Regions from separate parts of the Homo sapiens genome. Here region 1 is linked to region 2. Evidence: fine-mapped expression QTL. Tissue or cell type: sun-exposed skin. Region 2 holds a variant in brackets; the other region holds the start of a gene. All regions are shown on one strand. Distances are between the middles of the regions.

The links. PIP is the estimated chance that this variant, and not a neighbour inherited with it, causes the effect.
Region 1: it holds the start of LRIT2, and the variant in region 2 is the best candidate, but not a certain one, in a credible set for the expression of LRIT2 in sun-exposed skin (GTEx, PIP 0.52).

The regions. Positions count from the first base shown.
Region 1 is chr10:84,221,491-84,229,140 of GRCh38, reverse strand. It overlaps LRIT2 (leucine rich repeat, Ig-like and transmembrane domains 2), which reads left to right and starts at 3,597. Exons shown (of 3, transcript NM_001017924.5): 1 at 3,597-3,730; 2 at 4,027-4,808; 3 at 6,461-7,650. The coding sequence starts at 3,621. The coding sequence ends at 7,221.
Region 2 is chr10:84,286,797-84,294,446 of GRCh38, reverse strand. LINC00858 (long intergenic non-protein coding RNA 858) reads right to left here. Exons shown (of 6, transcript NR_038220.1): 2 at 6,027-6,223; 3 at 5,667-5,853; 4 at 5,403-5,472; 5 at 2,310-3,040; 6 at 1-1,201. Among named protein-coding and RNA genes, the nearest start is that of LINC00858, 11 kb to the right of the region's middle. The variant G/C (reference allele first, on the strand shown) is at 3,497.

The DNA.
Region 1 (7,650 bases), 65 kb after region 2:
AGCCATGTGGAACTGTGAGTCCACTAAACCTCTTTTTCTTTATAAATTACCCAGTCTTGGGTATGTGTTTACCAGCAGTGTGAAAATGGACTAATACAGCCTCCAAGATGATAAGCCTCCCAAAACTCATCTGTCAACCTTCCTTTGTGTATCCTGTCTTCCCTGGTTTGCCCTTGTAGAGAAGAATCATCCTGGATTACGCTCATGAATATTCAAGTCATGGGAAGAAACACATTCTTATTGTAAAAAATAAAATGATGTCTGGCTTACCTTAGTCTTTTAGTATGTGAGTCTGATGAGTATGAGTTAGTCCCTGAAAATTGAATGCCCTCTGAGTATCCTGGCAAAAGAATTTCTGGCCTTCCAATGCTGAAGACCAATTTGGGCCATGGCGAGGCTGCAGCATAGCTGGCCTTGGAAGCCTGGTTTGTAGGTTGGTTGGAATCATAGCATCTTCATGATGTCTTTTGATGACTGCAACATGGTTTTATTCCTCATGATTAAGCAGAGAATATGTCCAAGGTCACTTGCCCATTGAAGTTGCTGGGTACAAAAAGGCAAATACAGAAATTGTGCTCTGGAAAGTGGATGTGGGCTATCAAACCTAGGCTATCAATCGAGGGATTCAGTGAGCAGTTTGTCTAGAGGACAAGAGCTGGAAATTTTTGTCTTAATTATCATATAATCTAACAAAGGCAAAAATCAACATACAAGTACCTGAGCATATTTATTCACAAGGGCATTGTAGTTAGGATAGGTTAGATTTATGCTTAGGCAACCATTCCCAAATTTCCATGGCTTAACACGGAAAAATGTATTCCTGTTCCACAGACTCTACTTAAGTTTGGGAAATACAGAAGGAGGGAGGGCTCTGCTTCACTAATTTACTCAAGGACATGGCTGGGAAGACTCCACCATTTGGAATGTCAGTGGTTGCCACAACAAGGAAAAAGATAAATTGGAAGATCATGTTAGGGCTTTTCAAACCTCATTTCTTGTAACATTTCATTAGCTAGATCAAGAGTCTTGTAGCCCACCTATTTCAAGGAGGCTTGGAAAGGTCTTTTGTGTCTCTGCCACAGGCATACCTAAGAGCGTGGGTAGCTGAGGCAGCATCTCAGACATGCTGGCAGCAGACGATGGGGGTGGGAAAGAGTCCTAGCTTCAGAGAAACGGAGTACAGCGTGTCTGCTCCCTGATAGGATGCCCTGTTCTCTGTCTGAGGTAGCCCAGTGTTTTACTAATATTGGGAAGGTGAGTGGCATTTTCCAATTGAATAGATAGGACACTCTCCTATTAAGATTCTATTAAGACAAGCCAGGGAGCTGCCTCCCTGCAGCCATTTATATCTAAGCATTTCACAAACACAGAGTAATTCCTCCCCCATGACTCTGTCTCTATGGAGAATTTTAAGACCCTAGTTCTGAAAAGCATCCTGCAAGAGGGAAGATGGGTTGTAATATTTCCAGACCCTCTTGCCATTGTTGTTAGGGTCTCTTGAGTTTAGGGACTACACTGAACCACAGGTTGTTTAACATAAATAACTTGACCCATGCTAACTTCAATTATCCTGGTCTCCTGCCTCAATTTCCAAGAGAGCCACTCCCTCTGTTCATATGCCAAATAAGGAAACCAGAGAATGAGGGGGTCAGGAAAGGAGTGGGGGGCAGTAGAGAAGTGGCCTAGATGATTCTAGAGATAGCATGCCAGTGGGTGTGCTTCACAAGCTTCCCGCAAACTTCTTGAAAGTTGGATGGAGCTGGATTCATTTGAAAAGGCTGGCATGAGATGGACAGAGAGGAAATTGTGGGGGAATGGAGGACTCTTAAGATCTTTATCCTTTGGGGTAAGGGGAGAGAAAGGAATCCACTAGTGGTTTGGAATAGTCATGAATTAAATCACATATTTCCATGAAACAAGCCTGACAAAGCCTTAGCAAAGCTGGTAGGGGACTCTGGAGTGATAATTGCTCATCAGAGTTTTCCCCCATCAGGGCAAACTGGCCAGGCCCTCACCACCCTCAGTCACTGAATGTGGGATGTGGCTGCTTTGGGAAGGACGTGACCTCATGCAAGCACTCCTTGCAGCTGAGCATCCACTTATACCTTGAAGGGGGATCTAGGAAGCACATAGCCATATGTATGACAAACTTTGTGCCGATAGCTCTCTCTTTGTTTTGGATTTTTACCTTTAGACAAACACAGTGGTCCCCCCAGGTTTTAGAGTTAGACTGTTTGGAAACTCCTGCAAATATTTCTGGCTTGGATGGAAAGCCTGGAGTGTAATCAGCTTAGCTGGTGACCCATTTCCCCCCTCACTGGTTAGCTAAGCGGATTTTCTTTCCTGAGGCCTTTTGTAGGGTACAATGTATATCATGAGTCTTAAAGGAACTCATGGAATTTCAATATTCAACTGGAAGTGCCCTAGTTAATAGAGATGTAGACTTTTCGGATCTTAAAGAGTTTGTCAGTGGGAGGAGGATTAATGGGCACCAACTGTGTGCTAGGTGTTGTATTTAACATAATCTCAAACTTTTCTAAAAATATGGCTGGATGCAATGGCTTGCACCTGTAATCCCAGTTACTTGGGAGGCTGAGAAGTTTGAGACCAGCCTGGGCAACAGAGTGAGACCCTGTCTCTGAAAAAATACAAAAATTAAAAAATAATGAGAAATAAATTCCTGGAAACACTATGAGGTATTTGTTAATATTCTCATGATACAGAAAAGACTCACAGAGATTAAATTACATTCCAAAGATCTCAAGATTCAGAAGCACAAACAAGAGAGAAGACTCCTTGGGACAGGGTCTATAATAGGTTTGCCCTTGACCCTGTTCCTTTCATTGGGCAAGAGTATAGCTTAAAGCAAATGACCAGTAAATATTTGTGGAATAAATGAAGAGTGAAAGAGCAAGCATATAAAATTGTATACATCTCTTTTTAAAATGTAGGTTGCCCATTTTGATGAAGTGAAATGCACAGTATTAAGGAAAGGTTGTGAAGTCCAAGAAAACAATCTTTTGGTTTAATCAGAAAATACCATCTTGTATTTGAAACTGGTGACCCAAGCTGCAGAAGCAGCTGTCTTGATGCAGTAGGAGCATGACTACACCACCCGTGGTGTTGGGAAGAGAACAAATGATAGGAATGAACACAGAATTACTTTGTTACTCATCACCTATTTTCACTTTGAGAAAATGATTGGAAATTCTAGGTTTCAGGAATCAACTGCAAATGATGAAGCATTAGATGGATTCTGGCCACATCCCCTGAACAGTGGTGCTCAGAATAGCACTGCCTGCTTGTTTCTCAGACTTCTGTTTAAGACTCTAAGAAATGTAGAATCTGTATGGAATTGGACATCTGACTTGGAGTTTGCTTTTCAGACTCAAGAATTACACAAATGTTGAATTTCCTGACCCTAGTTAAGAGACATTGATCCCCCTTCGTGTGTTCTGACTGAACTTGTGGTCTGGGCTGTAACAGACCTCAGAGCTCCCATGGGCTTTCCTGCTGCTGTGTGACTTACATCATCATGGATTACCAATAATAGGATTTGCCACTCGGAAGCTGGGGCGATACTTATTCAAAACTCACAACGTATTTTCTTACAGAGAAATATGGCTTCAGTTTTTCATTACTTCCTGTTAGTTCTGGTCTTTCTGGATACACACGCAGCTCAGCCTTTCTGTCTGCCAGGATGCACTTGCTCAGAGGAGAGTTTTGGCAGGTGCGCTCTGCTGGCCAGATGTTAGAGGGTTATGGGGAATGGGTTTTCTTTGGGGATGATGTGGAGTGGAAGCAGGCTTAGAATTGGCAGGAAATCAGCAAAACTCTATGAGACTCATTCTAGTTGGGACTGAACTTTGCTGAACTGTGCATTTTTACCAAAATGAGTCTAACTCTTTTATTTCAATGAATAATAATATTTTTATTCTGATTCACATGTCTAATGCCAGGATCAGCCTGACCCCACTTTTCAGTCCCCTGTTGTTTATCTTAAAGCTGTTCTGGTTTCTTGTACAGGACTCTGCAGTGCACATCTGTCTCCTTGGGAAAGATCCCTGGGAACCTTTCTGAAGAGTTCAAGCAAGTGAGAATTGAAAATTCACCCTTATTTGAGATGCCCCAAGGGTCTTTCATCAACATGAGCACCTTGGAATACCTCTGGCTCAATTTTAACAATATCAGTGTGATCCACCTAGGAGCCCTGGAACACCTGCCAGAACTGAGGGAGCTGAGACTGGAGGGGAACAAGCTCTGCTCAGTACCATGGACAGCGTTCCGTGCCACCCCTCTCCTGAGGGTCTTGGATCTCAAACGCAACAAGATTGATGCACTCCCTGAGCTGGCTCTTCAATTCTTGGTCAGCCTGACCTACCTTGACCTATCCTCCAATAGGCTTACAGTTGTATCCAAGAGTGTCTTCCTGAACTGGCCAGCCTACCAGAAATGCCGGCAGCCTGACTGTGGGGCTGAGATTCTCTCCAGCCTGGTGGTGGCCCTGCATGACAACCCCTGGGTATGTGACTGTCGCCTAAGGGGGCTTGTCCAGTTTGTCAAGTCCATTACCCTCCCAGTCATCCTGGTGAATTCCTACCTGATATGTCAGGGCCCTCTGTCCAAGGCAGGGCAGCTTTTTCATGAAACTGAGCTTAGTGCTTGCATGAAGCCACAGATCTCAACCCCCAGTGCCAATATCACCATCCGGGCAGGACAGAATGTGACCCTGCGATGCTTGGCACAGGCCAGCCCCTCACCATCCATTGCATGGACTTATCCCCTGAGTATGTGGAGAGAATTTGATGGTAAGCCACATGCACCCTCTCAGTGTATCTGGAGGGAATGGAGAGGTCTGTAGCAAACCCATCCTCATTAGAGAGATTCAAAGCTGGGTCAGTCACGAAGGGTGGGTGCAAGTAAGATTGGGATAGCCCTGAATTATGCTCACTAGAACAGAAAAGATTTCAAGGTAGTGTTCCACTATTGGCATTATTTTAAATGTTTGCATACAGATCTCTTTGCATACAGAACATATACACATATATAAACACATATTTCAGGGCTAATTTAATATCTTATGCAAATATTATAAAATTTTATATGAGCAGATATAGTCTTTGGGAATCTTCTAGATGCAAAACACTGGACTATGTATTTTAGAATTCTAGAATTTTTTACTAGGATTGATTTTAGAGATGATCTATTAGTTATTTCCTTAACTTGCCTGAGCAGAATCACCTGGGGTGCTTGTTTGAAATAACACTGACATAAAATTGTTCAGACCTTATTGGCTTGAATTTGTAATACTGGGACCCAGGGAAAGGAAGTGACCTCTGTGGGCCCTGGGGCTGGAATTCAAACCTGCCTCTTCCTTCCTGGAACCCTCTGCTCTGTTTTCATACCTCAGCTGGGATTACCTTTAATGCTACTCTGTAGGGTTGGGCATATCACAAAGCCGGGGATGGCCTCCCTGGGGGTATCCCAAAGCTGAAAAGAAAAATCTTCGTACATTCCTCGTGTCCTGTCTTCTGTTCTCTGTCTAGAAGACAACTAGGAATAGCTGGGTAAAACTTGGGAAATATAGTCATTTGCCCAGGTATTTGTTATACATTATGACAAAACTCTGGATGGTTTAAAAATACCCAATTAACTGAATTTTCACATTCTGTATTGTTTTGATAATACCTTATTGGTTTGGCATTCAATATCAATGAAAGAAAATTATAGGATTTATTGTTGTAGCCTCTTTGAAAACCAAGAAATGCATACAGGTGTTGTCTTTCGTGGTGTTCTATAATCACTGTTTGGCAACGTGTTATATAATCTCTCAGTAAAAATATAAGCATTGAACACTTACTTTCAAACTAATGAGGTAGGTGATTGCTTATCATCCCATTTTATTGACAAGAAAATTGTCAAGAGAATTTAAGCAACTTGCCCAGTACCACACTGGATAGGAGCTCCATTAGGGATAGCAGCCCAGGCATGTGGCTCCAGGCTCTGAGGAACTGTGCATCTGGAAGGTAAGAAGGCACTTCCTGAAGCTCATAATATCGTACAATCACATAGTTGCAAGAACTCTCCTGAAAGCCATGGCTCAGCAAGGCGAAGGTGGTTTGGTGGGTGCAGTTAGTGAAGTTGAAAGAGTATGGTCTTCATAGATTGAAGAGCCAGGTCCCATATCAATTGTTGCTTCTGAACAACTCTCACTACGGGCAAGTTGATGGATTGCTCCAATCCTCAATATCCTATGTGTAAAGATCAGTTATTTATCTTACAGGATTGCTGGGAGGCAAACACCTGACACCAGGTACGAGGTTCATAAGAGGTTACCACCATCTTCTAACAACAACAATAACAAAAAACAAAGCAAAACAAAACAAAACTGGCATTGCTAGACACTTTCCAGCAGTCTATCAGATAAATGCACAGCTGTTTTGTTTTTCTTTCCACCCAGTGTTGACATCTTCTACTGGAGAAGACACTGCTCTGTCAGAGCTGGCCATACCTGCTGCCCACCTGGTAGACAGTGGTAATTACACCTGCATGGCCTCCAACTCCATTGGCAAGAGCAACCTTGTAATCTCTCTCCATGTCCAGCCTGCCCAGGCCCTACATGCACCTGATTCTCTTTCCATCCCCTCGGAGGGCAATGCCTACATTGACCTGCGGGTTGTCAAGCAGACAGTGCATGGGATTTTGCTGGAGTGGCTTGCAGTGGCTGACACCTCTAAGGAGGAGTGGTTCACCCTCTACATTGCATCGGATGAAGCCTTCAGGAAGGAGGTGGTTCACATTGGCCCCGGAATCAATACTTATGCTGTGGATGACCTCCTTCCTGGCACAAAATATGAGGCCTGCCTCAGCCTAGAGGGCCAGCCTCCACACCAGGGCCAGTGTGTAGCTTTTGTAACAGGCAGAGATGCTGGTGGGCTAGAGGCACGTGAGCACCTCCTGCATGTCACAGTGGTCCTGTGTGTGGTGCTGCTTGCAGTGCCTGTGGGCGCCTATGCCTGGGCAGCCCAGGGCCCCTGCAGCTGCAGCAAGTGGGTCCTGCGCGGCTGTCTTCATCGCAGGAAAGCCCCCAGCTGCACCCCTGCAGCCCCGCAGTCCAAGGATGGCTCCTTTAGAGAACATCCAGCTGTCTGTGATGACGGTGAAGGGCACATAGACACTGAGGGGGACAAGGAGAAAGGAGGAACGGAAGACAACAGCTGAACAACCCAGGCCATGGGGTGGAAACGGCTTGGGCTTCAAGCCTCTGAAACCAACCCTCTGCAGCAGCTCCATCCATTTATCCAGCAAGTATATATTGAGCACCCACTGTGTTCCAAGCACTGAACTTGACACAGGGGGTTCAAGAGTAAAAAGGGAAACAGAGTCTTTATCTTCATGATAAAGGGGACATAGTCATTATCTTCGTAAAGTTAAAGTCAATGAAGATTTGTCCATCAAATTAATCATTTTATTATACATGGTGATTAGAAATCACTAAATATTACTCTTTGCATATACTTAGCCTATAACATTTACATGCTTATACGTAATGTCTACGTATAATATTTTACATATATTATCCTGTAAACGAAGGTAGACTTCTACCCACTTTTTATAGGTGAAAAACTGCAGCCTGGACAGTTCAATGAT
Region 2 (7,650 bases):
TGACATAATCATCCCTTAAAGTGCCCACCTCCTAATTCCTTCATCTTGGAAGTGAAGTTTCAACTTATGAATTTGAGGGAGACACAAACATTGAGACCATAGCACTTACCTATTGCAATGCTCTTAAATAAACTGTCTTGCCATTTTTAACAAGTGTTTGGTGAATAATTTCTCTTTAATAATACAGACCCTATACCTAATGCCAGTAACTATAAGGACTTTATAATACTCCAGAGTCAGACTCAATTTCTCATCTGGCTGCTGCCTCCTGTGTTCCCACAGCAATCTGAAGTACTGAAGTCAAAAACAGCACATGGGCCTTGCAGCATCTGGGGTGCAGCAAGCAGGGTGAAGGGGGAGACTGCCTTAGAATGGAGGGTGGCAGCTCCAAGGAATGGGAAAGCTTCTCAATCCCTTTGGTCTAAGTGGGAAAACAAAAGAGCTGGCAGCAATCTGGGGTGAGTTAGGGCCCAGGAGCTAAAAAGCAGGCCGGTTTCATGATAACGAGCTTCTTTTTTGTGTAGGATGACTGTAGCAAGTTTATCTGCAAGACCCACAGGGACCTCAGCAATGACACATTGTGGGATAGATTGGGAAGCCAGATTAGGTAATCACAGAGCTGGAGCACCTCTCTAAGAACCAGCTGGGGCTCTGCAGGGGTGTGACAAGTGCTCATCCGGATGAGGGACTCACAGAGACAACTGGCACATTAAACAGATTGCACTGTCATCTTCCTGACAGCACGCCCACAAAGGACCATGCTCAGCTGTCATCTTCAAGTGTGGGAGCAGCTTCCCTCCAAGCCCTGGGCAAGAGGCCACAAGATCCAGGTGGGGACCCAGCCTCAGACAAGTGTCCAGTAGTGGAAACTAGTAGAAAACCAGGACAGATGGGCAGGGACAACAGGGCAGAGAAGGTGAGGCCTGAGGCTTGGTGGGTACCCCAAAAGAGGTTTGGCTTGGTACAGATCATGAGTTGAGGCCATGATATCCTCCTGTCTGGTAAGGAATGGTTCCAGACATGGCTGGAGTTGCTGCTTCTGAGGAGTGTCATGAAGACTGCAACAGGGAAGGCTTGGGGCCCTGAGGCCAAGTCCGTCATGTCATTCCAGCTCCCCTTCAGGGAATGTGGAGATACACTAAAGGAATGTCTCTCTTTTATTGTTGAAAATGTGCACCTTTTCCTTCAGAGGCCTGCATCACTGCACAGAAATAATAATAATAATAAAACTACCTAAAGTTTGTTGAATAATTTCCTTAGGGAAAGCACATGACATACATAATTGCATGTAAACAACCTTATAGTTCCCATTTTAAAGCTACAAAACCCACCGGGCACAGTGGCTCACCCCTGTAATCCCAGCACTTTAGGAGGCCGAGGCAGGTGTATCATGAGGTCAGGAGTTCAAGACCAGCCTGGCCAACATAGTGAAACCCCCTCTCTACTAAAAATACAAAAATTAGCCAGGCATGGTGGCAGGCGCCTGTAATCCCAGCTACTCGGGAGGCTGAGGCAGGGAATTGCTTGAACCTGGGAGGCAGAAGTTGCAGTGAGCTGAGATTGCACCACTGCACTCCAGCCTGGGCAACAGAGCGAGACGCCATCTCAAAACAAAAACAAAAACAGAAAAAAAAAACCTGAGGCTTATGGAGTTAGTGCCCCCAAATAACACAGCTGAAAACTTAAGTTTAGCACAGTGAAAACTTAATGCAAATGTAGGCAATCTGAGTCAATACTTAACCACCATGTTATTATCTTAGCATAAAAGTTCATTCTAAAGTATGCTGACCTGACCACATCTCAGGCATACTGAGATTACTGACAGTAGCTTTAGGACCAAATGACCAGGAGCCTAAATTTGCCTCTGCTATTTCCTGGCTGAGTGACCTCAACATGCACTGCTTATTGGCAATAAGAGTCAGATTCTTCATCTATAAAATGAGGATGGCAATGTATGTAGTATGTAGTAATCATCCGATATGATTACTTTCTGGTTTGAAACCCATCTTGAAGCCAGGCCTGAGATGTGGTTAGGTGAGGGCCCCATTCTGTTCATTGGGGACCTTACCACACACAAGGGGATCTCTAGGTTGGCATAGTCATTTCCTCAGGACATTACCAGCCTAAGTCCTCATCTTCTGGAACAGTCTCACTTTCTCCCACTGAGTAGGAATGTAGCTATTTGTATTCTCTTTCTAGAAGCAAGAGGACCTCTTCTGAAGGGTGAAGAGGAGGTATGAAGACATCAGCATCACCTGGATTCAAAGAAGAGAACTGACCATAATAAATTAGAAAACAATTTGTATTACCTGCTTCAAATACTCTTTAGACAGGTTGATAGTCCAAAGTGTTGTTGACATTTTGGAAATAGTAGCATCCAACGTGTGTAAGGAGCTGGGCTTTAGAATGAAAGATCTAGAATTAAATTCTTTTCCCACTGCTGATTAGCTGGGTGGCCTTCAGGGAGTTGCTTAAATTCTCCATGCCTCAGGTTCTTTGTCAGTAAGGAAAATGCTGCATTGGGTTGTGACTAAAAACAAAATGATATTTATAAAGCAACTATCCTGGTGATGAACACAGAATGCAAGTTCTATCAATGTCCATTCTTTTCTTCTTCTTTGTTAAAAAGGTATATGTGTGTAAAGACAACTCACATCAGGCTAGAAAGCCTTGGTTGATTGAAGTTTCATTTCATTTTAAGAGATTTCTTTTTCCTGGGGATCTCCAACTCTGCTAGAAAGCTTATAAGTCCACATGCTGCTGGTGGGCTGAAGTCAGAGCCCTTCTAAGGACACCAATGGGATCATTCAGCACTAGGACTAGGACAGCACTGGCTCTCTGGGTTTCCCTGTTCCAATTCTGTGGCACAACTTCTGGCCATGGTGCTGAAAGACACTTTTCTTGATTTCTTAACTACTTTCCCTTCTCTCCACTTCATTCAGTCACAGGGTGGCTCATGGTCTTGTGGGCAGCCTGGGCTGGCCCCTGGTGAGTCCCCATACATAAGCCTCACAGCTCTTCACTGGAGCCTTTTGCCCAACTTAGGAAGACGAAGAATTGAGGTTGGAAAATAGGAGACAGGTCAGTTCCAACAATTTCTGATTCAGTGTTCATTCTAATGAACAGCTCCCTGCTCAGAAATGTAATAACAATGCTGATAGTTAGCATTCATTTAGTCCCTACTGCTTTGCCTGTATTATTAAATTAAGTAATGATATCTTATAAGCAACTCTGGCCTGATATATAGTAAGTACTTATAACTGTTGTTTTTGCTATTGTTATTTTCACTTAATTCTCTCAAATCTCTGATGAGCAGAAATTGCCATCCTCATTTTACAGATGAAGAATCTGACACTTATTGCCAATAAGCAGTACCTATTGAGGTCACTCAGCCAGAAAACAGCATAGGCAAAATTATGTTCCTGGTCATTTGGTCCTAAAGCTATTGTCAAAACATTACACTACCTCTGAAGATCCTTCTGGCCAAACAGGCAGA[G/C]GTCAGTATGATTACTTGACCCAATCTATTTCTTCTGAGCTCAATTCAGTGGTGCGTTGGGGCTCATATGAGCTTGCAAGAACCAATTGTGTGCATTTCTTCCCAACTCTGTGTTGGTAGCATGATGTCAACCAGTGGGAATATTTGCACCACACAACTAGGTAAACACTGCAAATCAGGGCTTTCTAAATTTTTCTGGAGATATGGATTAGCAGTACTTAACTAGCCAGGATTATTAAACTAAGACATGGGTAATGTCAAGGACTATCATATATGCCTGTGGATTTTAGTCTATGGTTTTCTGACTACATATATACCATGAGAGAGAAATGGGATTCAACACAATTGGTGTTATTTATTTCTGCATAACAAATTACTCTGAAATTCAGTGGCTTAAATAACAATAAATATGTATTATCTCTCAGAGTTTCTTTGGGCCAGGAATTTGGAAGAGACTTAGTTGGCTCTGTTGGATGGTTCTGGCTTGGAGTCTCTTATGAAATAGCAGGCAAAATGCCAGCTGGGCCTCCAGTCACCTGAACAAAGTTGTGCCACTCACATGGTCGGCAAATTCGTGGTGGCTATTGTCAGGAAGCCTCAAGTCCCAATCACATGGACTTCACAGAGGGCCACTTGAATGTTTTCACAATGTGAAAAGATAAACAACAGCCTTCTCCAGGGTGAATAATCTGAGAGAGCGAGGTAAAAGCTGCAACATCTTTTATGAACATCAAATTCTGCCATTTCCATAATATCCTACTGGTCACACATCAGCCCTATTCTGTGCAAGAGATAACTACACAAGGGCATGAATAGCAGGAGATGAGAATCATTGGAGGAATCTTGAAAGCTGACTACCATGATTGTACAGAGAAATTGTGATTCCTTCATCCTTCAGGGCTGACAGCAAATAATTTTCTCCTAAATCCCATGCCACTTGCCTGACAGCTGTAGCACAAAGTTTTTTTTTCTAAGCAATGAAGAATGATGGCTATTGGATAAGAAAACAAATGACAGTGTCTACCCCAACATTATACACTCCCCAGATAAGAAACTCTTCTTGTACTCACCATACAATTAGCCTCTACATGTTTGCTCTCAGCTTATTAACCAGAATAAATTCCTCTTGTGTCTTTTTTGCTTGGTTTGCACAAGCCATCTTTGTGTCTCTCTGATTGAATAGACATCCTTTTCATGGGGTGGGGCTGAAACCAAGAATTAATCTCTGGGCATTGAGTAAAGGGGAAAATGAAGCTGATACGGAAAATTAAGTTAGTTTCTTTGGCTCTGAGAAGATAAGGGCAGATGATGCCTCTATCCCAATTGGCCTGATCACAGGTGCATTATTCTGAAGCTGCTGCTTACTGAGTTAGTGTCCAGGCTGAAGGAGAATGTGTATGACTCCTCTAAAGGCAGTTGTCTCTGGAAGTATCTGAAACATTTTAGTACAGTGTACAGTGAAGGAAAGAGAGGGGAAAGCCGTTTTACAACACAAAGTGTTTATGATTATTAACATTTGATTTCTTCATAATTTAAATGGTGCAGTAAGTTCAAAAAAAGAAAAATATTGTTGCCTTGACTTAGCAGATTGTGTTTTTCACTCAAAACTTTAGTATGAAGAGCTCAAAATAGTAACTAGTTAACACATCTTCACCTTGTAAAAAGGCTTGGATAAAGCAGACACTACGAACTCTCATCCTTATTCCTTCTAACCTCCAAATTGAATGTGCATAAATCCAAGGGTTCTCAAATAGAAAACATATGTTTCTTATAACTGAGATAGCTGAGTCTGGGATAAAATGCTTTGAATGTAGCATTTCTTATTAATTAGATTAATTGTCAGGTCCACCTATAATCTGTGTTTTGTGTAGAAAATCACACCAAGCCCAAGGCATGCCAGACTTACCTGAACCATTTGTGATGGAATCACCAGATAAGCAGATTAAAGAACTACTCAGACTGTGGTATCTGGACTTCTGAAAGATACACGATGAATGTCTTATTACCAGTAGGACAAAAGTGAGGAATGGGGGCTGGATAGCAATATTTTAGAGACAGTCATATAATTGGTTGTCTTGAAGGGGTCCCAAATGACAATCTCTATTGACCTGAAGTGAGTTTCCCTTTCTTCATCCTAGAAGAATTAATATATTCTTGTCAAAATTCTTACCTGTAGTAGTCAGGGTTCAATTAGAGAAGCAAACCACTGGGATATTACATATACCAGTGCTTTGTTAGTAGGATTCGGCCTTACATAGGCTGGTAAGATATTTAACCACCTTAGAAGCTGGTTAAATAGTCTCTATAGGGCTGTCGTCTTCATATCTGATGCTGAACCATGAAGTCCTCAGGGCAGGCTGGGAAGGGAAGGGAAGATGATTGCAAAGTGGTAGAGAGCAAGGACAAGCTGGAGATGACAAGCATGAGCTGAAATGAACACAGAAGGACTGGAACCCATGTTAGTATTGCACTGCCTCCAATTTTAAATATACGGTGTCTTGTAAGAAAAGCAGATAAACACATAACTTACCCATGAGTGGAGAAGCTGAAGTACAAATTCAGGGGAGGATGGAGCAGCTGCAAGCCTGGCTGGCATCCCATGCCAACAAGGTGACCCAGTAGATAAGTGACAAGGTGACTGAGCTGCCTGGTGCTCTTGCATAGAATTTTCAAGTGTTAGAAAAATGTCTCCATGCCTTGCAATTTGTCTCTTGTGGCCAAGCCTAACTGAAAACAAACAGGAAAGGGATTCTAGGAAATCTGCTTCCACCTAGCCAAGCTGACATGTTACTAAGCCACCACATCACTTCACAGGCTAAAGCATTAGGTTCCTGGTGCAAGGTCCTGCTCTTCGCTCTATCAGCTGTCCATAAATCTGATGACTTCAGCATCCAATATCTGCGACTCTTGTTTCCTTGACCTCCTTATTACCAGTGAACTCCTTGTCCACTCCACCTCACCCATGACTTGCATAGTCATCCTTGACCTTATGTCCCCTCCAAGATGGTCCATCTTCATAGTCTAATTAAAATTTCATTCTCCCTGACTGCTCCTTTCCAACCAGCTTGCATGCTCACTTACCCCACTCTGTGTTTTTACTTCATTAGGATTTCTAGTCTGTTGACTCTTGCTTTCATCCAAAGCATCACCTCTTTCTCTTCATTATCCTCCTCAGTCAGACTAGATTCTCAACACTGTCACTTTAATGGCCCTAAACCTTATTTTTCTTTTTTTCTTTTCTCATGGTCATCAACGAAACCCCACCTCTGGATGACCCCACATAATTTCCTCTCAAGGCCTTACCTGAGCAGCCAAGAAGTGCTAGAGGAACTTAAACAACAGGACTATAATCACTTATCTCAAATGGTCATGGCTACTGTCCCGAGCTTCTCCTACTACACTTTCCAGTCAACTTATATTTTTATATGAAACAAAATATATAATTGTATTAATTTATGTGTGGAAAAACAATTATAGATTCACATGCAGCTGTAAGAAATAATACAGAGATCCAGGCAGGGCGCAATGGCTCATGTCTGTAATCCCAGCACTTTGGGAGGCTGAGGTGGGCGAATCACTTGAAGTCAGGAGTTCGAGACCAGCCTGGCCAACATGGTGAAACAAACCCTGTCTGTACTAAAAATGCAAAAATTAGCTGAATGTGGTGGTGCATGCCTGTAGTCCCAGCTACTTGGGAGGCTGAGGCAGGAGAATGGCCTGAATCCAGGAGGCGGAGGTTGCAGTGGGCCAAGATCGCACCATTGCACTCCAGCCTGGGCGACAGAGCAAATCTGTGTCTCAAAAAAAAAAAAAAAGAAAGAAAGAAAAATAATACAGAGATCCTTTGCATAGTTTTCCCAGTTTCCTCTAATGGTAATATTTTGCAGAGTTATAGCATAATATGACAACAAGAATACTAACATGGATATAATTCACTGATCTTATGCAGATTTCCATTTTACTTGTCCTCATTTGTGTGTGTAAATTCTATACAATTTTATCATCTGTGTAGGTTCATGTATTCTTTATCATAACAAAGATACTAAACAACTGTAACAGCACAAGGATTCATTATGTATTCTTTTATAGTCACCCCCACCTTCCTCCCACCCCTACTCCATCCCTAACTCCAGAAAAATCCTAATCTGTCTTCC